7 separate regions of the Homo sapiens genome follow, and all the other regions are linked to region 1. Evidence: fine-mapped expression QTL. A gene starts in region 1. Each other region holds a variant in brackets. All regions are shown on one strand. Distances are from middle to middle. Region 1 holds the start of LITATS1 (lncRNA induced by TGF-beta and antagonizes TGF-beta signaling 1). Region 2 has its middle 24 kb from the start of LITATS1. Region 3 has its middle 47 kb from the start of LITATS1. Region 4 has its middle 32 kb from the start of LITATS1. Region 5 has its middle 53 kb from the start of MIR4255. Region 6 has its middle 58 kb from the start of LITATS1. Region 7 overlaps CDCA8 (cell division cycle associated 8).

Evidence for each region.
Region 2: its variant is fine-mapped to the expression of LITATS1 in substantia nigra (GTEx, PIP 0.99). The same link has a PIP of 0.9 or more in whole blood.
Region 3: its variant is fine-mapped to the expression of LITATS1 in whole blood (INTERVAL, PIP 0.90).
Region 4: its variant is fine-mapped to the expression of LITATS1 in whole blood (TOPMed, PIP above 0.99).
Region 5: its variant is fine-mapped to the expression of LITATS1 in whole blood (INTERVAL, PIP 0.98).
Region 6: its variant is fine-mapped to the expression of LITATS1 in thyroid (GTEx, PIP above 0.99). The same link has a PIP of 0.9 or more in unexposed skin.
Region 7: its variant is fine-mapped to the expression of LITATS1 in subcutaneous fat (GTEx, PIP above 0.99).

What each region holds. Positions count from the first base shown.
Region 1 is chr1:37,472,168-37,476,233 of GRCh38, reverse strand. It overlaps LITATS1 (lncRNA induced by TGF-beta and antagonizes TGF-beta signaling 1), which reads left to right and starts at 1,791. Exons shown (of 3, transcript NR_038842.1): 1 at 1,791-2,090. ZC3H12A (zinc finger CCCH-type containing 12A) reads right to left here and starts at 1,654. Exons shown (of 6, transcript NM_025079.3): 1 at 1,605-1,654; 2 at 295-775. The coding sequence starts at 737. RefSeq lists an enhancer at 710-809 and silencers at 1,460-1,919, 2,380-2,479.
Region 2 is chr1:37,448,140-37,452,205 of GRCh38, reverse strand. No RefSeq gene overlaps it. Among named protein-coding and RNA genes, the nearest start is that of LITATS1, 24 kb to the left of the region's middle. RefSeq lists enhancers at 1-246, 1-848. The variant A/T (reference allele first, on the strand shown) is at 1,606.
Region 3 is chr1:37,425,704-37,429,769 of GRCh38, reverse strand. No RefSeq gene overlaps it. Among named protein-coding and RNA genes, the nearest start is that of LITATS1, 47 kb to the left of the region's middle. The variant G/TG (reference allele first, on the strand shown) is at 2,442.
Region 4 is chr1:37,440,108-37,444,173 of GRCh38, reverse strand. No RefSeq gene overlaps it. Among named protein-coding and RNA genes, the nearest start is that of LITATS1, 32 kb to the left of the region's middle. The variant C/T (reference allele first, on the strand shown) is at 2,342.
Region 5 is chr1:37,212,850-37,216,915 of GRCh38, reverse strand. No RefSeq gene overlaps it. Among named protein-coding and RNA genes, the nearest start is that of MIR4255, 53 kb to the right of the region's middle. RefSeq lists an enhancer at 3,057-3,612. The variant G/TG (reference allele first, on the strand shown) is at 2,228.
Region 6 is chr1:37,414,124-37,418,189 of GRCh38, reverse strand. No RefSeq gene overlaps it. Among named protein-coding and RNA genes, the nearest start is that of LITATS1, 58 kb to the left of the region's middle. The variant G/A (reference allele first, on the strand shown) is at 2,470.
Region 7 is chr1:37,706,261-37,710,319 of GRCh38, reverse strand. It overlaps CDCA8 (cell division cycle associated 8), which reads right to left. Exons shown (of 10, transcript NM_001256875.2): 9 at 3,256-3,342; 10 at 601-1,998. The coding sequence ends at 1,954. Among named protein-coding and RNA genes, the nearest start is that of CDCA8, 16 kb to the right of the region's middle. The variant C/T (reference allele first, on the strand shown) is at 1,612.

The DNA.
Region 1 (4,066 bases):
CCTGCCTCACATTACAGGAGAGGAGTGGAGACACAGTGCTGGCCTCAGGGAGGGACCCACAGCATAAGGTAAGCTCTGCGGACAGAGGGACCTGGGCTGGAACCCTGCCTCTGTCACTTACCAGTAGCGCGACCCTAGCCTCATAAAAGGCTTTCCCTCCCTCTAGACCAGTCCCTAAGAAGGAAGTCACTTCTTCCAGCCCACCAGAGCTGCAGAGACAGTCATCCTTCCATGTGTCCTGGCCACAGGAGAGATGCGAACCTCATGTGTCCTGGCCACAGAAGTGACACTTACCTCATGGCCACGTTGCTCCCATCGATGACCACTGGTCTCAGGTCGCTGCCCTCCTTTTCCTCTTCTGGGAGTGGAGGCTCCAGGTTGGGAGCCTTAGGGGTGCCACCACCCCGCGGGACTAGAGGGAGCTGAGGGCAGGGGTCCGGTGAGGTCTGGCGCTCCCGCTCGGTGGCTGTCCCGTGTTTCACCAGCTCACCCAGCACCGTGTTGGTGTCTGCCTGGACGCCCAGCTTCTGCAGGACGCTGTGGATCTCCGTGGATGAATAGCCCAGCTTCCGGAAGAAGTCCACCTTCATCTGCAGTTCCAGGGCCGAGGCCTCCTCAGCGGCCAGCTCTTGACCCGGCCTTGGGGTGCCCTGACGGCTGTGGCTGTCCTCAAATTCCCACAGACTCATGGTGGGGCTGGCTTCCAGGACAGGCTTCTCTCCACAGGGGCCACTCATAGCTCAGACTCCTGGAAGGCCCCGCGCCACAGCTCCTACTGAACAACCAACAGGGTTAGGGACGGTGAATAGCGCTCTCTCCTAACCTCCCTCCCAAAACCACATCCAGCAGGATGAGGGATTGGTGGCACTACACACTGCATCGTGTTATTAGTTCAGGTTGTCCTCTCAAAAGCTCTCCCAGCTAGGCATTCCCATTCCCATTCTATAAAGGGAGAAACTGAGGCACAGACATTAAAAACGTGCTCAAGGTCATCCAGCTGTTAGCTGGTGGCTCGAAGATCGGAACTTAGTCTGAACTAAGACTGGAACTACCCCAGCTGTAAAGCCTCGAACCCCCACGCCAACCCAGGGGACCCAGAAGGCAGGGACGGGGCTCTCAGATGGAATCCTGGGGCTGGAAGTGCGTTGCGGGGCCCAAGGCTTCCCCACTGAGGCCACCACTTTCGCCCACCCGTCCGGCACTCAGAGCTCAGGCCCAGGCAGCGCAAGGCCCATGGCCGGACTCCCGGAGCCGGGGAGGGCAAGTTTCTGGGGTGACCCGTGGGGAGAAAAGTTGCTGGAAAACTTTGGTTGGCTGCCGGGAGCTGGTGACGCCGAGGCTGTCCCGGCCCGAGACCCGCGCTTGCTCGGCCCGCGATCCCGATCAGGAACCTGGTGCTCTTCCCCGGCTCTCCCAACTTGGGCAAAGTTGGAGGGGTCCTGAGGCCCGGCGGGCCGGGGAACAGGACCCCGACCCTTCCGTCCCCTCCCCTCTCCACCCCTCCCGTCCCCTCCCGTCCCCTCCCCTCGGCTCGGCTCGGACCCCGCCGGAGCGCTCCCTGCCGCTTCCCCGCCGAGGCCCGCACCCTCCCCGCCGCGCCTCACCCCGCCATGCGCCAGCGGCGGCCGGCGGCGTCTCCATGGGGCCGAGTCCTGGGGGTAAGGACGGCGGCGCCTTTATATGGGGCGGCGCGCGGGCAGGTGGTGGTGAGGCACTGACGCGGAAGCGGGCAAGGGGCGGGGCCGTCCCGGGAGACCGCCCCGGGGGCGGGGCTGCCTCGCCCCTTCCTGCTCCGCTCCTCGCGTCGCGGCCCCGCCCCCGCGGCCGCTGCGCGCCGGACGGGGCCCAAGCGGGGGTCGGAGCCTCAAGGCTGCGGCGGCGACGAGCTCCGAGCGGGACACTGAACGGCCCGTATGCGCAAGATAAGCACGGACTGAATCAGGTACACGCACCTGCCGGGGACGCACTGACCGAGGTGCGGACGGCGGTACCAGGACAGGTAAAGCCGCGAACACTCGGACCTAAGAACTTGACAGGTACACCCTGCCTGATGAAGCTACGTACGGCCAGGTGCGCATCGAGTGAATCAGGTACGCGGAGGTTGGTCCACGCACCTTGGAGGCAGGTCCATGGTTATAGACAGGTACATCCAGACAGGCACTTTTCAGATGGAGTCAGGCCCCCTCAAGACACACTGTGCTTAAAGCCGTCACACAGAGGTTGGCCACCCCCGGGGCCAGGTACACTTTTCCTGAAATCTGTACTTTACTAGGACCAAAAGGCAGGTTCAGTCAGCAGATGCACAATGACCGAGGCAGAAAACCAGGCAAAAGAGGGCCATTTACCCCAATCACCACATGAATACTGTCCACACAAGAATACTGTCACCCATACCGCAGAACTCACTGAGCGCCCCCACTGGAGGAGCACCCTTGCTCCATGAAGATGCTTTTAGTTTCCCAGGTCAGACCTGATCCCTCGCATGAGCACAGCACTTTACAGGCTTACACTCACGGGCTTACAGACAGAGGTCATTATGCTGATGTTACCCTTGAGAAATTCTGCAAAGGCTAAACTGCCCCAGCTGGAAAGACTCGAACCAGGATGGAGAGCTCCTATTCTAGTGCTCCTATTATTTGCCATTTTTGTGAACCACGAGTGACTGAGGGCAGAGGGGAGCCTGGCTTCCTATGTGTGTGTGTGTGTGTGCGTGCGTGTGTGTGAGTGAGAGAGAGAGAGAGAAAACACAGAGCCCACACGCTGGAGGACAGAGCCACATGCCACCAGTGCTTACTATGTGCCAGTCCTTTGTTACATTCTCTCTACCTCATCATAGGCATGTATCCTATAAGTGCTAGTGTTATAATAAATACTTGTTTATTGTAAAAGACACCATAGACACAACTGTACATGTACAGCTTAAAGAATAATAGTAATAATAAAAAAGCCATGTATCCATCACCTAACTTAAAAAATAGACCAGTGCCAGTACCTTGAGGCCCTCTGGGTGCCCCCATCACAGCCTCCTGCCCACATCCTGAAGAACTAGTTTCCTGAACTTTAATTGTGCTAGTCATTCTCTTGCTTTTTCTTGTAGTTTTACCACCTCTGTATGCATCCCTAAGTGGGATATTGTATAGTTTTGCTATTTTTTACTTTGTGTAAACGGAGTCATTCCATAATTATGTGACTTCCTTTTTCATACAGCATTATATTTTTAAAAATCCATTTTGATTGCCTGCATACCTGTAATTTATTTTACTACTGAATAGTGTCCCATTTTATGAATATACCACTGGTTACTTATTCAGTCACCTGCTGTTGGATGTTGTTTCTAGGATTTTTTTTCTATTACAAAGACTGTGCTTTGGATATTCTTGTATGTATCTTAATGAAATTGTACAGTGGAGGAAATGGATGTTCAGAGATTCAGAAAGGTGAAGTCACCTGCTCAGGCTCTGGGGGCTGGTGGAGCTGGAACTCATGTAGCTCTCTCCAAGGCAGTCCATCTCCCCATCCACACCTGCTTGTTCGGGAGGCCACCAAAGACCCCAGGGAGGCAGGCGTGTACGTCTCTATCTGGACCCTGAGGCTGTTCCTCTGGGCTTGCTTGCTCTTACCTAGCGGTGTTCCTGCTTTGTTGCCTGGTCATCTTTGAAGACCCCAAAGTGTCCCCTTCTCTGCTCCCCAGGCACAGCAGCTCCAGGGGCTTGGCAACCCAAGGAGAGAGGAAACACAAGGCCCCCTGCTGCATGCCAGCTCACATCCCATGCTGGGCACCTCACATGCTTGCTGTCACTCCAGCTGAGTGCGGTGCCGGCGGCACCCCTAACCTCACAACAGTCCCTTTTACAGATGAGAAGAGCTCAGTTATGTTAAGCATTTATTCGCTATAGCAACTACCTTTAAGATAGTAAAAACATTAAGTGATGTGTCCAGGTTAATAATGATAATGACAATACTAATCAATCATAGAGATAATGCCTCCCATTTATAGAGTGCTCACTGGGTGGCAGGCACCAGCTAGCGCCTTGCAGACACTTTCGGGCCTCTGCTCTGCTTCTTC
Region 2 (4,066 bases), 24 kb after region 1:
AGCACCTTCCGGGCACCCGCCTTCGAGGCCTTTCCCCTCCCTGCCGCTTTATAATGCTAATTGAGGGAATGAGTTTCCTTGGCCTGAGAGTGGGCTAGGGCTGGGGCTGGGACCCAGGGCTTAGGCAATCCCAAGGGTCTGGAAAGGAAAACAGGTCAGGAGTAGAACCCTTTCCCAACACCATGGGCCAGCTCCCAGGCCCCATCTTGGGCGTGGGGGATTTGGAGTAGGATGACCATATAATTAGTCATCCAGATTAGGATACGTTTGGGAATGAAAGGGAGTGTCATTAAAAGTTACCCTAGGGCGGCCGGGCGCGGAGGCTCACGCCTGTAATCCCAGCACTTTGGGAGGCTGAGGCAGGTGGATCCAGAGGTCAGCAGTTCGAGACCAGCCTGGCCAACATAGTGAAACCCCATCTCTACTAAAAATACAAAAATTAGGCTGGTGGCTCACGCCTGTAATCCCTGCACTTTGGGAGGCCGAGGCGGGTGGATCACCTGAGGTCAGGAGTTTGAGACCAGCCTGGCCAACATGATGAAACCCCATCTCTACCAAAAAATTAGCCTGATGTGGTGGCGGGTGCCTGTAATCCCAGCTACTCGGGAGGCTGAGGCAGGAGAATCGCTTAAACCCAGGAGGCAGAGGTTGCAGTGAGCCAAGATGGTGCCACTGCACTCCAGCCTGGGTGACAAGAAAAAAAGCTGGCATCGTGGTGTGCACCTGTAGTCCCAGCTACTCAGGAGGCTGAGGCAGGAGAATCGCTTGAATCCGGGAGGCAGAGGTTGTGGTGAGCCAAGATCGTGCCACTGCACTCCAGCCTGGGCAACAGAGCGAGATTCCATCTCAAAAAAAAAAAAAAAAAAAGTTACCCTAGGGCAATAGCTGAGAACCCCCACGAGGTCATTCTGTGATGGAACCCCTGCCCTGCCCTCCCCCTCCGCAGCTTCAGACCCCCACACCCTCTCCTGCTGCTGTGTCTCCAACTGATGCTGAAAGTAAAAGCCGCCACTCACTGGCCGGTTACCTGCCCAGCACTCCACAGAGCTTGTTTTTTGTGACCTTCATGACAGCTGTGAGTCTCATTTTATTGATAGAGACACTGAGGCCCAGAAGAAACTGGCCCAAGAACACACAGGTGGTGAGTGGTAGAGCTGGGATTTGAACCCAGGGAGGCTGGCTTTCCTTGGAAGGATTATACGAACATTTTAATTGGTTTGGCCCACAAGAATTGAATTGCGAAGGAATGAGGCTTCCCAAGCCTTTCATCAGACCGTCCGCAGTCTCTTGTAGCTGTCTTCAGCTCAGGGACATCATTAAAAGGAACTTTGCAGCTTGGGCAACAAGGTGAAATCCTTTCTCTACTAAAAAAAATTTTAAAAATTAGCCAGGCGTGGTGGCGCGAGCCTGTGGTCCCAGCTACTACTTTGGAGGCTAAGGTGGGAGGATCACCTGAGTCTGGGAGGCAGAGGTTGAAGTGAGCCGGAATCGTGCCACTGCACTCCAGCCTAGGCGACAGAGAAAGAACCTGTCTCCACAAAAATATTTAAAAATTACCTGGGCGTGTTGGCACGTGCCTATAGTCTCAGCTACTCAGGAGGCTGA[A/T]GTGGGAGAATTGCTTGAGCCCAGGAGTTTGAGGCTGTAGTGAGCCATGACACTCCAGCCTGAGTGATAGAGGGAGACTCCGTCAAAACCAAACAAAACACAAAACAAAACAAAAACCCAAAAAGGCCGGAGAGGTGGCTCACACCTGTAATCCCAGCACTTTGGGAGGCTGAGGTGGGAGGATTGCTTGAGCCTGGGAGTTCTAGACCAGCCTGGGCAACATAACGAGACCTTGTCTCTACAAAAAAACAAAAAAAACTAGCTGGGCATGGTGGCATATGCCTGTGATCCCAGCTACTTGGGGAGGGGTGCTGAGGTGGGAGAATCCCTTGAGGCCAGGAGGTCGAGGTTGCAGTCAGCTTTGATTGTGCCACTGCACTCCGGCCTGGGTGACAGAGCTAAACCCTGCCTCCTAAAAAAAGGAAGTGGGTGGCGGGTATGGGGGAGGGGGATGTGTGGGCAAGGGAAGGAGGGAGGTGCACTCAGCAGGGGCAATGTGTAAGGAGTATGCAATGGAAGGGAGGCAGCCGGATGTCATTAGTCAAAGTTAACATTTGTTATGGACCTACTGCATACCGGGCTCTATTTAAAGTGTTTTCAAGGTACTATTCTATTTAATCTTCATACCAACCCTATAAGCTGGGTTGTTTTACAGATCATCACTACGAAGAGCAAAACAGGCCACTTGCCCACCTTGACAGAGCTGGTAAGTGGCAGAGCCAGGACCATCCAGACGGCTCAGCTTCCAAGCCAGCAAGCCTCATCGCCATGCAGTTTGTCCCCAGGGAGGAAGGATGCTTCTGGTCCCAGGGTCCAGGATGCTCTACCCTCCTTCCTCTAGGATATCCAGGGGGCCAGCTTTAGTGAGAGGAGAGTGCATGGTCCAGCCTTCTGGGGGCACCCAGAGTGTCCCCTTCCACTCCCAGCTTCCCACTTCTGCTCCACTGTCTCCCTGCAGGAGGCTCTGGGAAGGCAGAGATGGAGCTGTGGTCCCCACCGCCTTCTGTGGCAGCTCACTTTCATTCATTTTCTTTAAATGCTTCTCACTCTCTGTTTTTAAATCTAATTTTTCAGCTTCTTTTTCATCTTCATTCAAGTTGCTTTAATGAAACGAAAATGTGTCTGTTTCCCTCTGCTGGAGCTGCCCGGGGAATTTCAATATAAAACAAACAAGTTGGCTTTTAAAATTAAAATTTTATGGGTGGCATTTCCTCATTTAATGGGTGGCACAAAAGAGTGGAGTAAAACCAATTAACATGGGGTTGAGACTCGGTGTTCAGAAAAACTAAACAACAGGAGCGCGGTGCGCCAGGAGCCAGGAGCAGTTCCAGCAGAGGCTGGGGAGGTGCGCGGGTGAGGCAGTTGTGGAGGCTCCCCCCACTCCCTGGCAGCTGTGTGCACCCAGGTCGGGCACTAGCACATACAGGGATGCCAGCCTCAGCTCCCCACCCAGCTCTACCCCCAGGACCCATGCCCAGGGGTTGGTGTGCACATCTACCTTGCACATTCAGATGGCAGGCGATAGTGGGGGCTGAGAATGTGGAGGGGCGGGGGAGGCTGCCTTGGAGCCCTGGGGTCCTGGACACTGTTGTCTGGAGAAGCATTAGGAAGTAGCTAAGGCCTCTGCCAGGGCCAGCATTCATTCGGATAGTTATCCTCTGACGCAATCTGAGTCCTACTCACGAGGGCCTCATCTTCATCATGGCTATGCCCCAGGGCCCAGACCGCACCAGGAGTGTGGCAAGTGCTGCATAGATGCTGGATACCTGGATGAATGACTTCATTCCGGCAAACAATACTAATGGAAATCCTGCTCTGCTGTGACTCCCTCAGGGTGGGTGTCACCCGGCATAGGGTGTGTTTGGGGTAGAAATGGTGAAGATACCACAGGAGATCTGAGGAGCAGGGGCATGCCTGGGTGGCGCTGCAGGGAGAGAATGGCTCTGTGGAACTGGCAAGGGCAGAGTGAACAGGGCTGGAGAAGAGGCAGTCCGGGCAAGGGCGGGGTGGGGAGGGAGCTGAGAAATTGAGGTGGCTGAATCTGGCCTGGAAGGAAGTAGGGGTAAGAAGATGAGTCTGGAGAGACCAGTCGGGGCTGGCTTGTGAAGAGTGGCAGGTTGCTTTGACTTCATCTCAGGGCAATGGGGACTTGCTGCAGGCTCAGAGCAAGGTGATGTGATTCCAGGTGGCTTCAGGGACACTGACTCTGGAGGCTGGTGGGAGGGAAAGGAGAGTCCCGCCAGGTGTGCTGGCATCCCTGCAGGCTGAGCTGAGTACTTCAGGCTGGTTGGTTAAGGTGAACTGTGGCTGCTGGGGGTGGGGAGGGAAGGCAGGGATGATGGTGGGGCCTTTCTCTGAGCTGGAGAGCCTGGAGGAGGAGCAGGTTGGGAAAGTGGAGGGGTTCAGTTGTGGCAACATCAGCAGCCCCCCAATATAGACCCAACTGTGCTAAGGATATAGG
Region 3 (4,066 bases), 46 kb after region 1:
AGGGAGAGGGGTGAGAGAGATGGGGGAGAGACAGAGAGGGAAGGGGGAGAGAGAGGAAAGGGGGAGAGAGAGAGGAAAGGGGGAGAAAGAGAGAGGAAAGGGGGAGAAAGAGAGAGGGAAGGGGGAGAGAGAGAGGAAAGGGGGAGAAAGAGGGATGGGGGAGAGAGAGAGGGAGAAGGGGAGAGGGAGAGAAAGAGCGGGAGAGAAGAGGGAAAGGGAGGGAGAGAGGGGGACAGAAGAGGGAGAGGGAGCGAGAGGGGGAGAGAGATAGGGAGGGAGAAGAGGAGATGCTAGATTCTTTTCAACAACTAGTTCTCAGGGGAACTAAGAGTGAGAACTCACTCACTCCCACAAGAATGGCACCAAGCCTCACGACCCAAACACCTCCCACCAGGTCCCACCTCCAACACTGGGGATGAAACTTGGTGGGGCCAAACAAACCCTATTTAAGCCATAGCAGCGTCTCACAGCATCACTGTGGAGTAATGGCCACCATAAGCAAGTCCTCCCCACCCTGAGCCCTGGCACGACACTGCCAATTCTTGAAACCCAGGGTGCAGTGGTGACGGCAGCTGCGTATGGTGGGAAGTAGGCTGTGAGCAAGTCACAGTGCCCCATCTGTAAAACAGAGATAAGAATACGATCTGCCTCTTGATGTCAAGATTAATGAGATAATAATGGTCATCTCTTAAAAGATTGTATCTACCAAGGGCTGTTCACAGAATAACACATCTAATCCTCTTGACAATCCTATGTGGTAGTTGCTATCATTACCCATTTTATAGAAGAGAAAGCTGAGGTATTGACTCATTCAAGTCTTAAATGGGGGATTGGATACAGGTGGTCTGGCCCCGAGCCTGGATTCTTAACCACTGCCCCTCTGGTTGAGGGAGGCAGAATCCTTAAACATAGTAAGTGCACAAGAAGTGTTAGCACCGGGCAAGGGAGAACATCCACTTTCAGCAGCACTCGCCTATGATGGATCAAAGCCGAGGGCTGTTGTCACCATGTGACATGTGCCAGATCCTTTCTGGACTGAACTGGAGACCCTGGACCTATGAGCAATGGGATTTGCTGTGTCCAGCTGTGTATAACCACTGGACTCATCCTCCATCCCGCCCTTGGTAGAGTGCTAGTTTTCATCTATGAGTAAAAGAACCACAATAAACTGTCTTCACCCTTTCTGGCATTAAAAAACCTTCAATTTTCCCCTTCAGTGAACTACTTGGTGAATATCTTCACTGGCATATGAACTTCTGGTACATTAAAATACTCAGGGTTTTTTTTTTTTGTTGTTGTTGTTTTTTGAGATGGAGTCTTGCTTTGTCACTCAGGCTGGAGTGCAGTGGCATGATCTCAGCTCACTGCAACCTCCACCTCCTGGGTTCAGGCGATTCTCCTGCCTCAGCCTCCCGAGCAGGTGGGATTACAAGTGCACACCACCACACCCGGCTAATTTTTGTATTTTTTAGTAGAGATGGGGGGTTCATCATTGTTGGCCAGGCTGGTCTCGAACTCCTGACCTCAAGTGATCTGCTTGCCTTGGCCTCCCAAAGTGCTGGGATTATAGGTGTGAGCCACTGCGCCCGGCCTGTTTGTTTGTTTTTGTTGTTGTTGTTTGTTTTTTAAAGAAATGGGGTCTCACTGTGTTTGCCCAGGCTGATGTGCAGTGGCACAACTGTAGCTCACTGTAACCTCGAACTCCTGGGCTCCAGAGATCCTCCTGCCTCAGCCTCCCAAGTAGATGGAACTATAGGCGCATACCACCACACGCAGCTCATTTTTAAAAACACTTTTTGTAGGGACAGGATGTTGCTATGTTGTCCAGGCTGGTCTTGAACTCCTGGCCTCAAGCAGTTCTTCTGCCTTGCCCTCCCGAAGCACTGGGATTACAGGTGTGCACCACCATGCCCAGCCTTTCAGATTTTGTTTTATTTTGTTATTATTTAATTTAGTTCTGCTGGTCTTTGTTTTGCTTCTTGACGTTTCTCAATAAATGTTAGCTATGGTATAGGAATCTCAATCTGCATACTTAGGTATGTAAGAAATACCATTTTTTTTGCCTCTTTCTTTTCTTTTCTTTCTTTCTTTCTGTCTTTCTTTCTTTCTTTCTTTCTTTCTTTCTTTCTTCCTTTCTCTCTCTCCCTTCCTTCCTTCTTTCCCTCCCTCCCTCTTTCTTTCTTTCCTTCCTTCCTTCCTTCCTTCTTTCTTTCTTTCTTTCTTTCTTTCTTTCTTTCTTTCTTTTCTTTCTTTCTTTCTTCTTTCCTTCTTTCTTTCTTTCTTTCTTTCTTTCTTTCTCTCTTTCTTTCTTTCTTTCTTTCTTTCTCTCTCTCTCTCTCTCTCTTTCTCTCTCTGTCTCTCTCCCTTCCGTCCTTCCTTCCCTCCCTCCCTCTCTCTCTTTCTTTCTTTCTTTCCTTCCCTCCTCTTTCTTTTTTTTTTTT[G/TG]ATGGAGTCTTGCTCTGTCACCCAGGCTGGAGTGCAGTGGTACGATCTCGGCTCACTTCAACCTCCGCCTCCTGGGTTCAAGCGATTCTCCTGCCTCAGCCTCCCGAGTGGCTGGGATTACAGGCATCCGCCACCAAGCCTGGCTAATTTTTTGTATTTTTAGTGGAGATGGAGTTTCACCATGTTGGCCAGGCTGGTCTGGAACTCCTGACCTTGTGATCCGCCCGCCTTGGCCTCCCAAAGTGCTGGGATTACAGGCGTGAGCCACCGCACCTGGCCTTTTTGCTCCTTTGAAACCAATTTTACGGTCCAATATTGAACCCCCATTTCTTCCTCTAGGAATGTGTGAAATTCAGGCTCAGATGCTCTTGGGGCTAAGTTGGAGATGTGCATGCGTGTGTACGTGTGTGTGTGTGTGTGTGTGTGTGTGTGTGTGAAAGAGGTGCAGGTGGGGGTTCCTGTAATAGAAGTAGTGTGAAGCTGGGAGCAGACAGGCACCTGAGGGTAGGGATTACTGAGGGTGCCCCCTTAGGAGGGTGGAGTAGATAGACAAGAAGCAGTGAGTTGGTGTAAGGCATGCCACTGAGTGGGAGCTGCTGAGTTCGTGATCCCGAGCCTCATGAACTGTCCCACTAAGGAAGGTGTGGCTTGGTGTTTCTCCTTGGGGATGTGTCTAGGACGTTTCTGCAGACTCATCCATAGGAAGCACACTGCCCTACTCTGACCCCCTCAGAGGACTCTATTTGGGTCTCTGTGAGGGCACTGATCACAGCCTCGGTTAGTGTCTTGGGCTGTGGTGTTCATTCTATTTAATTCAATTCAATTCAGTTTGATTCAATTCAATTCAACAGTGCTAGACTCTGTGCCAGACACTGAATTAGACTTAACTCCTGCCTTATGGGGCCTGTAGTTAAGTGGGGCTCTAGGTATGTAGACACAGGATTACCATGCACAGTACTGCCATGACAGTGGGGTACCAGGGGCATCGGGCAAGGGTTCCTAACTCAGGCTGTGGGTCAATGAAGTCAGTGAAGATGCCAGATAGTTGTGGTGCCTCAGCCAAGACCCAAGGGATGAAGGGGAGAAGGCTGCGGGTGACTAAGGTGTTTCAGGTATTTCAGGCAGGGATGGTGTGTAGTGGAGACTGGAGGCCAGAGAGTGTGGGGCCTGGAGATAACTTCTCTAGGTCACAGAAGGATCTGGAAGGTCATGGGGAGATGGTAAAGGAGGAAGTCAGAGGGTTGGGCTGGGGCCTTGGCATGCAAGGCTTTGGAGGCCTTACATTTAAGAGTTTGGGCTATACCTGGGGGCGATGCAGAGCCCTTGAGGGAGAGTGATACATGTGCAGTCTTTAAAGAGCAACTTGTGACTGGGCATGGTGGCTCATGCCTGTAATCCCAGCACTTTGGGAGGCCGAGGTGGGCAGATCACCTGAGGTCAGGAGTTTGAGACCAGCTTGGCCAACATGGCGAAACCTCATCTCTACCAAAAATACAAAAATTAACCAGGCGTGGTGGTACACGCCTGTAGTCCCAGCTACTGGGGAGACTGAGGCAGGAGGATCACTTGAACCCTGGAGGTGGAGGCTACAGTGAGCTGAGATTGCATCACTGTAATCCAGCCTG
Region 4 (4,066 bases), 32 kb after region 1:
CACGATCTCGGCTCACTGCAACCTCTGCCTCCTGGGTTCAAGCGATTCTCCTGCCTCAGCCTCCTGAGTAGCTGGGATTACAGGTGCGCACCACCATGCCTGGCTAATTTTTGTATTTTTAGTAGAGATGGGGTTTCACCATGCTGGTCAGGCTGGTCTCGATCTCCTGACCTCATGATCCACCCGTCTTGGCCTCCCAAAGCGCTGGGATTACAGGCGTGAGCCACTGTGCCCCAGCCAGCTTTTTTCTATAATGGCAATAATCAGTTTTAAAATATTGTAGCAGGTTATCTGAATAAGAGGGTCTTTTTTTTTTTTCCGACCTAATGAAGCTCAGTTGGGGATAGTTGTTTTCTAGAAATCATGTTAATTTTAGGGGTGTAGACACATGTGAACTTGAAGCACACCCCTTATTTTATTTCATTTTTAAGTTTTCTGTTTTTGTTTTTGTTTTGAGACAGCCTTGCTCTGTCACCCAGCATGGAATGCAGTGGTGAGATCATAGCTCTCTGCAGCCTCAAGCTTCTGGGTTCAAATGATCCTTCCACCTTGCCCTCCCAACTAGCTGGGACTACAGGCATGACCCACTACACCTGACTAATTTATTTATTTAGTTTTGTAGAGATGGTGGTCTCACCATATTGCCCAGGCTGATCTCAAACTCCTGGTCTCATGGGATCTTCCCACCTTGGCCTCCCAAGGTGCTGAAATTACAGGCATGAGCCACGGTACCCAACCTCTTCTCCTCTCATTTTAATAAAATCACTGGGACAGGTCCTTTATAGGAATAAGGCAAACACCACCTGCTTGTCTGGGAAGAGCCCTGGAAGAACTGTAAGTGGTGGAATGCAAACTGAGATGTTAAATATTCTGTTTCATAATGACTGCGTTTCAAGCAGAGTTTGCTATGGATGTGACCTGGTTTTATGGCCTGGGTGGGAGCAGAGAAGAACAGGGATTTTCAGGTGTGGGGAGGCCTGAGGAAGCTTTCATTGGTGGCTGTGCTCTCCCATACAATAGGGACCCTGAGAATGGGTGTACAGTCCAGGGTCCCAAGGGAACACTGTGTAGCTGTCAGTGTAGCCGTGTAGGAACCCTGACTGCAGCAAATGAAGACAGAAGGAGGAAAGACAGTGGTGGGGGTGGGGGAGCAGGGAGACAGAGAGAGAGACAGACAGACAGACAGACAGACACACAGAAACAGAGACAGACATACATACACACACAGAGACAGAGAAAGAGACAGAGAGAGAAAAAGAGGCAGACAGAAAGAGACAGGCAGAGAGAGACACACACACAGAGAGACAGAGAGACAGACAGACACACACACACACACAGAGACAGACAGACACACACAGAGACAGAGAGAGACAGAAAAAGACAGAGACAGACACAGAGAGACACAGAGACAGAGACACCGACAAACACAGAGAGACAGACAGACACGGAGAAAGAGAGAGAGAGACAGAGAGAGACAGAGAAAGAGACAGACAGAAATAGAAACACAGAGAGAGGGAGAGACAGAGAGAGACAGACAGAGACAGACACAGAGAAAGAGAGAGAGATAGGGAGAGAGAGAAAGACTGACAGACAGGGAGAGACACACACACACAGAGACAGAGAGAGGGAGAGTGGAGGGAGAGAGAGAGAGAGAGGGAGAGTGGAGGGAGAGAGAGAGACAGAGAGAGGGAGAGTGGAGGGAGAGAGAGAGACGGAGAGTGGAGGGAGAGAGAGAGACAGAGAGAGAGAGAGTGGAGGGAGAGAGAGAGACAGAGAGAGGGAGAGTGGAGGGAGAGAGAGAGAGAGAGACAGAGAGAGGGAGAGCGGAGGGGATGCAAGAGAAGCCGGCAGGAGAAGGAGCGGTGAGACAGTGAGTTGAGAAGTGGCCCCAGGACTGTGTGTGGAACATACAAGCACCTGTCTGGATCCCCCAGATGCCAAAGTATAATTCTCAAAATATTAAAACCATAATTCTCATGCAATACACAGTGAGCACCATCAAAATATTATTTAGCTCAATGAGAGAATCTTTAAACAAGGTGGTTCAAAGAAGAATATGAGAAACTCGCATGAAAAATGATGATGGAATAAGATACTAAATTAGATATGAAATTGGTTGATAGCCTATAGGACATTAAAACCATAACCTTTTGGGATTATTTTCTCTAGTGGATGGAAATCACTTGCCCCTTACCAGTTTTCTACAAGTAAACATCTAATTTTACAGAGCCTGGGCCCTAAGCAATAGTCAAATAGACTAGTCAAATAGAATGTCGAACATTCTCGTTACTCTAGACAGGCTTGTTGGCCAATGCTTGGGGCGTGGAGAGGAATTAAACCA[C/T]ATTTTTGCCAGTTTTAGAATCTCATGGAGAAATAGACCATGTTTGGTTTGGGTTTTGGGGGTTCAAAGTCATTTTAAATGGACTCTGAGAAGAAATATGAGCCACACTTGGATCCCAACATGGTGAGGTGGGGCACAGAGAAGCAGCGTCACGTGGTACCCGTGGCCTGGGGACAACTTGTGGGGGTGAGGAGATGGCCTGTACCCACCGCTATGCCGGGCTTCGAAGCACCTCTCCTTAGACTTCAGAGTCGCATCAAGCTTTTCGTTTTCTGGAGGGTTTTTTTTTCTTTTAAAACTTTTATTTGTATTTATTTATTTATCTATTTACTTTTTGAGACAGGGTCTCACCCTGTCACCCAGGCTGGAGTGCAGAGGCATGATCACGGCTCACTGCAGCCTCGATCTCCTGGGCGCAGGTGATCCTCCCACCTCAGCCCCCTCAGTAGATGGGACTATAGGAAGGCACCACCACACATTTTTCTATTTTTATTAGAGATGGGGTTTCACTATGTTGCCCAGACTAGTGCTTTTTTTTAAAATTAAAAATTTAAAATTGTGTTAAAATATACAAAACAAAATCGATCGTTTCAATATTATTTTATTTATTTATTTAGACAGAGTCTCGCTCTGTTGCCTGGGCTGCAGCAGCCTTGAACTCCTGGGCTCAAGTGATCCTCCCACCTCAGCCTCCTGAATACCTGAGACTACAGTTGTGCACCACCACACCCAGCTAATTTTTTGATTTTTTTTATTTTTGATGGAGATGGGGTTATGTTGCAGTGTTCTCAAGCTGGTCTCAAACTCCCAGGCTCAAGTGATCCTCCTGCTTTGGCCTCCCAAAGTTCTGGGATTACAGGCATAAGCCACTGCATCCAGCCTACAATGCATGTTAAAAGGTTAAGCACAGGAGGAAACAGTAAAACAGGGTGAGGGGGATTGGGAGCGTGTGACGGGGTATTGGGTCAGAGTTGCATCATTGGGAAGACATTCGATAGTCTTGAAGGAGGTGAATTGTATTGGGAGGAAGGGTTCCAGATTGGTGAGAGTACATCAGTTATGTCTGAGGTCAGAGTGAGTGAGGGGGATGGGTAGTGGGAGAAGAACATGACCTTGGAGGCCATTTTAAGAACTTAGGTTTAACTCCAAGTGAGATGGGAAACCATGGTAGGATTTTGAGCATAGAAATGACATGATCTGACTTTTGTTTTATTTTTATTTATTTATTTATTTTTTGAGACAGAGTCTCGCTCTGTCACCCAGGCTGGAGTGCAGTGGCACAATCTCGGCTCACTGCAACCTCCGCCTCCTGGGTTCAAGCAATTATCCTGCCTCAGCCTCCTGAGTAGCTGGGACTACAGGCACGCACCACCACGCCTGGCTAATTTTGTATTTTTAATAGAGACTGGGTTTCACCATCTTGGCCAGGCTGGTCTTGAATTCCTGACCTCAGGTGATCCACCCGCCTTGGCCTCCCAAGGTGTTGGAATTACAGGCATGAGCCACTGCACCCGGCCTGACTTATGTTTTAAAGGATTCACATTGGTCTGTGTGTTGAGAATAAATTGAAGAGGGGTTGGAGAGGCAGGGACAGAAACGGGGAGACCAGTTAGAAGGCTGCCACAGTAATCCTGGGTCACAGGTACTGTGGTTCCAGTGGCTGGTGGATCATTACAGCACAGAGCCTGGCCCCTACCCAGCCTCCTCAGCAAATCTTCTACCTCT
Region 5 (4,066 bases), 260 kb after region 1:
CACATTAAAATGCATTATTTTATGGTTCAGCCTGGAAGAGCAAGTTTTCTAGCGTGGCTGCTTCTTTTTGCTCCAAAACATCCTGCCATATCTACACCCCGGTTCCTCATCTTCTCTTCCCTGACTTGGAAGGGCTTTTCTTTCCAAGGTGATTTTTTGAAAAATTGTGATAAAATATACATAACATAAAATTTATCATTTTGACCATTTCTAAGTGTACAGTTTAGTGGCATTAAGTACATTCACATTGTTATGGAACTATCACCACCATCCCTTTCCAAAATTTTTTCATCTTTGCTAACTGAAACTTTATGCTCATTAAACAATTCTCCATTCCTCCTTCCCCTCCAGCCCCTGGTAACCACCACTCTACTTTCTGTTTCTCTGAATTTGACTGCTGTGGGTACTGCCTATGAGTGGAATTATACAGTATTTGTACTTTTGTGACTGGCTTACATAACTTAGCATAATGCCCCCAAAGTTTATTGATGTTATAACATGTGTCAAAATTTCCTTATTTTTAAATTGAAGTTCCTTATTAAAATTTTAAAACATTTTAAATTGTTTTTAATTGAAAAATAATTTTGTGTATTTATTGGGTTACAATGTGATTTTTATTTTTTTGGAGACTGAGTATCAAGCTTTCACTATGTTGCCCAGGCTGGTAGTGAACTCCTGGGCTCAAACGATCCTCTCATCTTAGCCTCCTGAGTAGCTGGGATTACAGTGGGCACCACCATGCCTGGCTACAGTGTGATGTTTTGATCTATGTATACATTATAGAGAGATCCAATCAAGCTAATTAACATATCCATCGCCTTATCAACTTATTTCTTTTTGTGCTGAGGACATTAGAAATCTATTATTTTTTGCAATTTTGAAATATATGATACATTTATTAACTGTGATCACCATGCAGTACAATAGATTACTAAAATTTATTCCTCTTTCTAACTGAAACTTTGTACCATTTGATCAACATCTTTCCTTTCCCCATCCCTCCCACCCTCCGACAGCCTCTGGTAACAACCTTTTAAACTCTCTGCTTTTATTAGATCAACTTTTTAAGATTCCACCTATAGGTGAAATCATACAGTATTTTTCTTCTTTGCCTGGCTTATTTCATTTAGTATAATGTCCTCCAGGTCCATTCATGTAGTCATGAATGACACAATTTTCTTCTTTTTAAAGGCTGTGTAGTATTCCATTGGGTATATATATACACCACATATTCTTTATCCATTTATCTGTTTATGGACCCTTAAGTTGCTGCCCTAGCTTGGCTATCCTGAATAATGCTGAAATAAACATGAAAGTGCAGACATCTCTTCAACATACTGATTTCAATTTCTTTGGACATATACTCAGAAGTTGGATTGCTGGATCATATGGTAATTCTATTTTTAGTTTTTTAAGGAACCTCCATACCATTTCCCCAAGTTGCTGTACTAATTTATATTCCCACCAATAGTGTGCAAGGGTTCTCTTTTCTCCATATTCTCTCCAAAACTTGTTGTCATTCATCTTTTTCATAATTGCCATTCTAATAGCTGTAAGATGATATCTCATTGTAGTTTTAATTTGCATTTTTGTGATGATTAGAGATGTTGGTATTTTTCATATGTCTGTTGGCCATTCATACGTCTTCTTTTGAGAAGTGTCTGTTCTTATCCTTTGCCCATTTTAAAATCAGGTTATTTGTTTTCTTACTATGGAGTTGTTTGAATTTCTTATATATTTTGGATATTAGCCGCTTATCAGATGTGTGGTTTGCAAATATTTTCTCCCAATTCATGGGTTGTCTCTTCACTCTGTAAATTGTTTCCCTTGCTGTGCAGAAGCTTTTTAGTTTGATGCAATCCCATTTCTCTATTTTTGCTTTTGTTGCCTAAGCTTTTGGAATCCTGTCCAAGACATCATTGCCTGGACAAATGTCATGAAGTTTTTCCGCTATGTTTTCTTTTAGTAGTCTTACAGTTTCAGGTCTTACTTTTAAGTCTTTAATCCATTTTTTTTTTTTTTTTTTTTTTTTAGATAAAGTCTTGCTCTGTCACCCAGGCTGTAGTGCAGTGGGACGATCTCAGCTCACTGCAACCTCTGCCTCCAGGGTTTAAACAATTCTCCTGCCTCAGCCTCTCCAGTAGCTGGGATTACAGGAAACTGTCACCATGCCCAGCTAATTTTTGTATAATTCATTTTGAATTGATTCTTTTTTTTTTTTTTTTTT[G/TG]AGCAATAAAGCTTTTTAATCACCTGGGTGCAGGCGGGCTGAGTCCAAAAAGAGTCAGCAAAGGGAGATAGGGGTAGGGCCATTTTATAGGAGTTGGGTAGGTAGTGGAAAATTACAGTCAAAGGGGTTGTTCTCCGGCAGGCAGGGGCGGGGGTCACGAGGTGCTCAGTGGGGGAGTGTCTGAGCCAGGAGAAGGAATTTCACAAGGTAATGTCATCAGTTAAGGCAGGAACTGGCCATTTTCACTTCTTTTGTGATTCTTCACTTGCTTCAGGCCATCTGCATGTATACATACAGGCTTGGGCTCAAAGGCCTGACAGGAACCTTTAAGAACATTTAGAAACTCTACTCCAAAAGTCTGTTTAAAAGTTGGTCGTCTGGAACTGGTTAGATTCTTAGCCCACAACAGCAAAGTCTTTAACCCATAAATCTGCAATATTTACAATATTATTTTAAGTACAGTATCTAACCAGGACCACATTGTTTATGCTCCAAGACAATGCCTCTCATCTTGTTTGCACGTCTCTGTTACTCCCAGGGCTGAATTCACTTTCTTTTATTTTAGTCATATGTATTTCCTTTAGATTCCTATTAATACTTCCATTTAAACACTTGACCACAGCATATGACAAAATTTTGTTTTCACATCTTCCTCTCACTTCTAGATGATGAACCCTCTAAGAGCAGGGTTTTCTTTTATTATTATTATTATACTTTAAGTTTTAGGGTACATGTGCACAATGTGCAGGTTAGTTACATATGTATACATGTGCCATGCTGGTGTGCTGCACCCATCAACTCGTCATTTAGCATTAGGTATATCTCCTAATGCTATCTCTCCCCTGTCCCCCCACCAGACCCCAGAGTGTGATTGTCAGGCCTCTGAGCCCAAGCCAAGCCATCACATCCCCTGTGACTTGTACATATACGCCCAGATGGCCTGAAGTAACTGAAGAATCACAAAAGAAGTGAAAAGGCCCTGCCCCACCTTAACTGATGACATTCCACCATTGTGATTTGTTCCTGCCCCACCTTAACTGAGTGATTAACCCTGTGAATTTCCTTCTGGCTCAGAAGCTCCCCCACTGAGCATCTTGTGACCCCCGCCCCTGCCCACCAGAGAACAACCCCCTTTGACTGTAATTTTCCATTACCTTCCCTAATCCTATAAAACAGCCCCACCCCTATCTCCCTTTGCTGACTCTTTTCAGACTCAGCCCACCTGCACCCAGGTGAAATAAATAGCCATGTTGCTCACACAAAGCCTGTTTGGTGGTCTTTTCACACGGACGCACATGAAAGTGATGTTCCCCTTCCTGTGTCCATGTGTTCTCATTGTTCAATTCCCATCTATGAGTGAGAACATGTGATGTTTGGCTTTTTGTCCTTGAGATAATTTACTGAGAATGATGATTTCCAATTTCATTCATGTCCCTACAAAGGACATGAACTCATCATTTTTTATGGCTGCATAGTATTCCATGGTGTATATGTGCCATATTTTCTTAATCCAGTCTATCATTGTTGGACATTTGGGTTGGTTCCAAGTCTTTGCTATTGTCAATAGTGCCGCAATAAACATACGTGTGCATGTGTCTTTATAGCAGCATGATTTATAGTCCTTTGGATATATACCAAGTAATGGGATGGCTGGGTCAAATGGTATTTCTAGTTCTAGATCCCTGAGGAATTGCCACACTGACTTCCACAATGGTTGAACTAGTTTACAGTCCCACCAACAGTGTAAAAGTGTTCCTATTTCTCCACATCCTCTCCAGCACCTGTTGTTTCCTGACTTTTTAATGATTGCTATTCTAACTGGTGTGAGATGGTATCTCA
Region 6 (4,066 bases), 58 kb after region 1:
AGTGTTTCACTCTATCGCCCAGGCTGGAGTGCAGTGGTGGAATCTTGGCTCACTGCAAACCTCCGCATCCTGGTTTCAACTGATTCTCCTGCCTCAGCCTCCTGAGTAGCTGGAATTACAGGCATGCGCTACCACGCCCGGCTAACTTTTGTATTTTTAATAGAGACAGGATTTCGCCATGTTGGCCAGGCTGGTCTCAAACTCCTGACCTCAAGTGATCTGTCCCCCTCGGCCTTCCCATGTGCTGGGAATTATAGGCGTGAGACACCGCACCCGACCCACTACTGTAGACTTTATAAACCCCGTACACTTAGGCTACACTAAATTCATAAACTTTTTTCTTTTCTTCAATAATAAAAATGTAACATTTTTACTCTTATCTTTTTTTGATTTGTAAAAACTTTTGGACTGTTGTAATAACACATAGCTTAAAACATAGACATATACAGCTATATGAAATTATTTTCTTTGTTTATATCCTTATTCTATATAAGATTTTTTTCTTTTCATATATACCTTTTGTAAAAACTGTCAATTTAGGCTTTTTTCTATTATAAAATTATTTCCTTTTCTTTTTTTTTCTTTTTAGACTTTTTTGTTAAAAATGAAGACACAAACACACACATTAGCCTAGGCCTACCTAGGGTCAGGATCATCAATATCACTGTCTTCCATCTCCACATCTTGTCCCACTGGAAGGTCTTCAGGGGCAATAGCATACATAGAGCTGTCATCTCTTCTGATAACAATGCCTTCTGGAATAGCTCCTGAAGGACCTGCCTAAGGCTGTTTTACAGTTAGTTTTTTTTTTTTTTTTTTCATAAGTAGCAGGAGTACACATTGAAATAACAATAAAAAGCATAGCATAGTAAATACATAAGTCAGTAACATTGTCGTTTATTTTCAAGTATTATGTACTTGTACATAATTGTATGTGCTGGACTTTTTTATTTATTTATTTTTTTTGAGACAGAGTTTCGCTCTTGCTGCCCAGGCTGGAGTGCAGTGGTGCGATCTCGGCTCACTGCAACCTTCGCTTTTGGGGTTCAAGCGATTCTTGTGCCTCAGCCTTGCAAGTAGCTGGGATTACAGGCATGTGCCACCATGCCTGGCTAATTTTGTATTTTTAATAGAGATGGGGTTTCACCATGTTGGCCAGGCTGGTCTCGAACTCCTGACCTCAAGTGATCTGCCCTCTTTGGCCTCCCAAAGTGCTGGGATTACAGGTGTGAGCCACCGCACCCCACCCATTGTGCTAGACTTTTACACGACTGTGGCAGCGCAGTAGGTTTGCTTACACCAGTCCTACCATAAAGGCATGAGTAACCTGTTGTGCTATGACATTTCCACTGCTTGATGTTATGACAGCTACCGTGTCACTAGTGATAGGACATTTTCAGGTCCATTATAGGCTTATGGGATCACTGTTTGTGTATGTGGTCCGTGGATGACCGAAGCGCTGTTATGTGACACAGGGCTGTATTTACATGGCTTGCTTCGCCTTCTGGCAGGTCACTCCTTAAATGTCACCTTATCAGGGGGAACTTTCTGACCTCCTTGTCTAAAACAGCAACCCACGCTCTGTTCTCTCTGCTTTATTTTTATTCATAGCTCTTACATATTTATATGTAGTGGTTTACAACTTTCTGGTCGGTCTCTGCCTGTAGACTGTATCACAAGAACAGGGACTATGTTTTGCTTATGGTGGAATCTCGAGCACCCAAAACAGCACCCAGGGTATGGGAGGCACCCAGGAAATATTGAGTCAAGGAAGGGATATCTCCATGACAGGCATAGGGTAAGTGCTCAATAAATGGCAACTGGGGTAAAGCCATGTGAGCAAATGAACAGACACCATCGCAAAGGAGAAGCTATGAGGAAGCTCCTCTGCAAAGGCTGCCTCTGCACAGGAAAGCCCAAGGCATCTGGTTTTCTGCCCTTCTCTCCTCGCTTGCCTCCTTTGCAATCGTTGAGAGAACTGTAAAGCTGCCAGTGATCTTGGACAAGGCTTCCTCCTACACCACGGGGTAGGTATGCCAGTCTTGGGGGTTGTAGAGTGGTAGTGCGGAGGTTTCTGAAGAATGAGGTTCCTGGCCCTGAGCAGCGAGGAGAAGCGGTCTTAGGGTCCTCCTGCCAGGCTTCTGGATTCTGTCTAAAGTGTCTCCAAAACTGGTGTGTGCTTGTGTGTGACTGTGGGGGAGTGTGATGAGTCACCATGCGGATGCTGGGCTGTGTGTGTATAAGTCTATATCCTGCGCTTGGTTCCTTGCACAAGTGTGTGGCTGTTTAGCGTGTGCTTGCTTATATGTGTTGGGTGAACAATCGTGTGTGTAACTGTACATGTGTGCTGGGTGCAGACCTGTGTAGAAGGTATGACAGGGTGTGAGGGTGCGTGGGTGAGTATGAGTGCCTTGAGGCACAGCTTAAGGGTGAGCTGTGGGAGTGTGTGCATGAAGTTCATGGAGAGGC[G/A]TGTGTCTCCGTGTGAGCAGGTTTGAACATGTTTTATGTGTGTATTCTAGTTGTGAGAGGGTGTTGACAACCAAGTTTGCACACATGGATTGTGTGTGAACTTACCTATGAATGAAATTCTGTGACTGATGGATGAAGGGTTTCTGGGGCCAGGGGTAGTTTGTCCATAAGGACTTGGCTACTGAAGACACCAGTTGTATCATTTTGCTTGTGCTTGTGTTTCTTTTCTTTCTTTTTTCTTTTTTCTTTCTGAGACAGAGTCTAGCTCTGTCCCCCAGGCTGGAGTGCAGTGGCGCGATCTCGGCTCACTGCAACCTCCACCTCCAGGGTCAAGTGATTCTCCTGCCTCAGCTTCTCAAGTAGCTGGGATTATAGGTGCATACCACCACACCCGGGTAATTTTTGTATTTTTACTAGAGACAGGGTTTCACCATGTTGTCCAGGCTGGTCTCAAACTGCCGACCTCAAGTGATCCACCTACCTTGGCCTCCCAAAGTCCTGGGATTACAGGCGTGAGCCACTGCGCCCGGCCTGTGCTTGTGTTTCAAGCTATCCTGACACAGGGCCATAGAAATAGGAGTGGATCTCTTGGGAATATCTCTGCTGATTGCCGTCATTTCATTAGAAACACAATTATTTCGTAAGGCTGGGCTAACGGTGTTGGAAATAGCCAAGTGCAGCGCTGGAGTGACAGGGACCACATCCCATTTGATACTAATTGGTTTGATGATGGTAATTGTTGTATTGCAGACAGTTGTGACTATCTCCTAATTTAATATAATCAATAAGGTAACAACAGCTCAATGCAAATGAGATGTGGGGACCCATGGGGCCATTTGTAAGTTATGTTCTTAATGCATTTTCCTAATTAGCTGTAGCAGATTCCCCCCTCCCCCACCTTCTCTGGAGTGTGAGAGAAGTGATCATCTGAGATGCCATGCTTCGCTTTCTCCAAACTTTCACTTTCAGAGAGGCTCAGGGAGAGCTCATCCTGGAGCTCCCAGGAACCCCAAAGGCTTTCTTAGGACCAGCTGAAATGGAGTCAGGGAGTCAACAGTTCAATAGGATACTTCCCTTCAGATTCATGACACCCCCCAGCTTGAACCTATGTAGTTTCTCTGCTTCTTCCATCTGATTGGAAGGTTCTCCAAGACAGGGGTTGTACTTCTTCCCATCAGACTGGCCACTTTGTCACTCAGGGATCCATGTCTGTTTCACTGAATAAAGGCTCCAAATGCCGCTGCTGGTGTTTTATTCATGACAAGCCCTCATGGATGTGCGTGTGTGCATGTATGTGTATTGCAGTGTAGCCCAGACAGTGTGTCAGGAATGCAGCATGCCAGCAGGGATGTAACTTAGGTAGTGGTTAAAAGAGACTCTGGGCCGGGCATGGTAGCCTACACCTGTAATCCCAGTGCTTTGGGAGGCCGAAGTGGGAGGATCATTTGAGCATAGCAGTTTGAGACCAGCCTGGGAAACATAATGGGACTCCATCTCTACAAAAAATTAAAAAGTTAGCTGGGCATGGTGGCATGCACCTGTGGTCCCAGCTACTCAGGCTGAGGTGGGCCTGGGAGGTTGAGGCTGTAGTAAGCCA
Region 7 (4,059 bases), 230 kb before region 1:
TGTTTCCTTGGTGTCAGGCTCTTTAGGCCTGATGACATATAGTCTGGGTTGCTTATTTGCACTGAGTAACCATTCTTCCAAATGCTGTCACTACCAGAAGATTCCTAGTCTATAAATTGTCAATACCCAATAACCTGGCTAAGTATGCCCCCAGGTTGTCTTCTTTTAGGCAGAACCCTCTTGCATCATTAGCTCTAGGTTGATCATTTTCAGCCTAGAGAGTTCCGGGAAGGCAGATCTGCCAGGGCCTCAGAAACTTTGGGAAGTGAGACTCATGATCACCGAATTACTCTTGCCCCGCTTTGTTCCTGGCCAAGAAAAGTCTACTATACTGGGAAATTACAGAGACCCTAGGTGTTGTCCTCCCAGACACAAATTTCTAGCTCATGGAATGAAGGTGTTGGGGGCGCTCTGCTGGGGGTTGAAGGTACCGATGCTCTGGATCTTGTAGTAAGCCCCTCTTTCAGATATCAGAATGAATCTGCCCAAAGCAAAGGTTTTCACATCTGAGAAAAGCAGATGTGCAAAGACTCCCACACAATTGCTGTCTCCCTAGTCCACAGAGCACAGCTTGGAGAGGACAGGCAGGATGAACAGTGATTACAAAAGAAAACACAAAACCAGAATTTATTGAAAGTAGGTACCAGCTCTGATTAGAACAATCAGCTCAAAGATACCATTACTCAGAACAATATATACAAAAATCTCAGGGAAAGGAGAATAAAAGAACTTAAAAGAATACAACTTGAACAGGACTGTTTTACTAAAATGGTCTTGTTGCAAAATAATAACAAATACCACAGAGAGCCCTACATGAGAAAGCCATGTGCCTTCAAGCCTGGGGATGAGGACTCTAGTTCTCAAATTCTTAGAACATAGCACATGATTCTCCAGGGCAGAGAGGCTGGCTGGAGAATGAGGACCTCACTGCTGACTCTGCTTAACAAAGTCCATGCCCCAGGCACAGGCACACATGGAATGAGGCCACCAAGCAAGTCACACCCACCCCTGTTCCCATGAACCCCATAAGAGAGAAGTGCTCTCTGAAGTCTACAGACTTGGCAGGGACCACTGGACCATGGATAGCTTAGAGACAGTTATTCTGTGGCCAATGACATAAAACCTCCAGAATCTGGGCCCTACAGTTCCCTTATCCAAATTTCCACTAACTAGGGAGGTAGAAGAGCAAGACATGGAAGTTGTCTCCAAACCAGTATTTGGTCTTCAGTAAACAGGGATAAACATAAAACACTGCTCCACAAGCAGACTTCAGAACTACTGGGCACAGCAGGTGAAAGATCCCTAAGTCCCACTGACCACCTCCCACAGGAGGAGGAGGAGGAGGAAGAGGAGGGCTGGTAGGGGGAGGTGTCATGAGTGCGAGAGGGTAGACGGACATGTTCCCTACTGAGGTCACTGCTGCCAACTGTCCTGCTCTGCTGATCTGTACAGTTCCCCCCACCTTCTGGACCTACCCTCTCATGGCCCAGAGCTCACTTATCTGAGCCTAAACCTCCCGGTCTCAAGCATAGAGAGCAGAAATGCCAGATGCAGAGGTTCTCTGGGTAGCGGTGGTGGAGGCAGTCTTCCTGAGAACACAGGGTTCTTCTT[C/T]GCCCCCTCAACTGCAGGCAGGGCAGGGTGAAGAGGATGTTGAGTTGCAGGAGGCAAAAGGCAGCAGCTCAGAGAGCAGGGAGGATTCAGCTGGGAGACTGATGGGAAGCTTCCATGGCATGGCCCCAGCAAGCAGTGACTGGGATCAGCTGGGATGGGAGGGTGAACAGACAGCTCTACCTAACTGGTGTGGGACTAGCACGTCTGAATTCCTGAATTCCCTTAGAGGAACATGGCTCCTTGCTCTGGAACTTCACACTCAAACAATAAGCCTGAAGGGAAGAAGTCTCTTCAGGGTCCCAGAAGTGCCCATTAAAAGTCCATCCTGTCAACTTTGGTGTCTCATTTGTGGGTCCGTATGCTGCTGCAGATTTGGGCGAGACGGTTCTAAAAAGAAAAGGAGAGAGGTCATTGTAGAAGATGTCACTTGGCAGGCTTGCCCCTTGGCCTCCCACAGTCAGCCTGAGCCCCTCCATTCTCTATCTGTATCACACATGAATTCACCTTTCTGAACCTGTTTCTCATCTGAACAAGGGAGTAAAATAACAACTCAAGTGAGACAGTAAAGGTATCATAGATTTGAGAAGAACATTGCAATAGATCTAGCTAGAGGATGACAGTCACAAGATTTGGGTGGCTAGGTGTGTGTGGGATCTCAGCACTGGGCCTATGTTCAGAAAGACAGGTTTAGGAAACCAGCCCCGCCTTGTCCCCTTCCTTGGATGTACCCTTCAGACCCCACAGAAGGATGAGGGTAAGGTTGCCATGTTTACACTAAGTGCTTCATCCACCACCCAAGATGATGGCTGACCAGACCAAGGAGGTTCATCCCTGGCGGAGCCATTACATTCTTCAGTTAAATTAAATTGATAATTTACTTTATTTTTAGAGCTGAGGTCTTTCTCTGTCACCCAGGCTGGAGTGCAGCAGCACGATCATGGGTCACTGCAGCCTTGAACTCATGGGCTCAAACAATTTCTCTCACCTGAGCCTCCTGAGCTGCAGGGATTACAGGTGTGTGCCACTGTGCCTGGCCCTCTTCAGAATTTAAACCAAGACAAGAAATTGAACAATTGGGCAATAGAGCAATAAAGTTGGGATTGGAGGTGTGGTTACTCAAAGCCACATGCAAAACAATGTTAAGTAAGCACAGAACCTGGAGCCTGTGGAGAAGGTTATCTGCTGAGGGAGGAATGAAGATGTGTGAGAGAAATGAGCACACAGGCCCCAGCTGATGGGCCCCACCACTCCAGAGGCTTGGCCGTTCAGCTCGCTCTTTGATTCTGTAAGATTCCTGATAACAAGCCCCGACCCTCATTCTTGAGCTACTCTAGGTTTCACTTTCTGGTGGCCAATAGTGACCTAACATACCCCTAGCACTAACTGCCTGAATGAGGCAGAATTTTGATTTTGCAGTGGAACTTCTGTGGCAGGCACCCTGGGATTGAACAAAACTCAACATCAACTGAGGAACAGAACTGCTGCTATCTAAGTAGGGTAAGAGTCAAAATCTCTTGGGGGAAGGAAGACAACACAAATTTAAGTAGAAAGTATTAGCCCAGGCCCAAAAGACAATCCTAAATAAAGGTAGCCCAAGAAAGCTACTGGAGGCATCCTATGTGTGGAGATGAATATGAGACTTACGGAGAGCTTCTTAATGTTTCCCAAGGCCTCTGGATCCAGCTGGGCAATACTGTGCCTCTGCAAGTCACTGGCCAATAATCGCAGGCTCTGAATAGAAAGGGGAGTGGGTTAAACTGGCCATGGCCCTTAGGGCCGGAACCCCTAGGTTCCCCTGATATCCTGCACTTAGTGGTGGGGAATGGCTGGGATGGAGAAGTGGCAAGACAGGCAGGAAGGATATTAGCTCTAAGGAGACAATGACTTCATCAGCACTATCACTAGGGTGGAGGCTGGATTACCTGGGCACAAAAGGCACGCACATCATCTAAGAAATGCCCTGCAGAGTATGTCTGAAACAAACCGTCCTCCCCTCACAGGGGCTGAGGTCAGCAACTCGCTCCATGCAGCCCAGAGACACTGAGCTCAGCTTGCTTCAGAATCCCTTAAGTTATACAAAGCTGAAGGCACAGCTCATGGTCCGGGTTCTAGACTAAGCGCATACCTCGGTGGTGCCCTCCTCTGCACCACCCTTTAACATCTCTATTATTGCGCATATCACAGGTACCATGATTGCAAACCCATCTTGACCACTGAGCTGCTTTCTAAGGGCAGGCCCCATGTCTACTTCTTGGGCCTACTACAATCGGATGGGCAAATGTTAGTTGATGAACAGATGGAGGCCGGGTGTGGTGGCTTGCACCTGTAATCCCAGCACCTTGGGAGGCTGAGGTGTGTGGATCACCTGAGGTCAGGAGTTTGAGACCAGCTTGACCAATATGGTGAAACACCATCTCTACTAAAAATACAAAAATTAGCCGGGTGTGG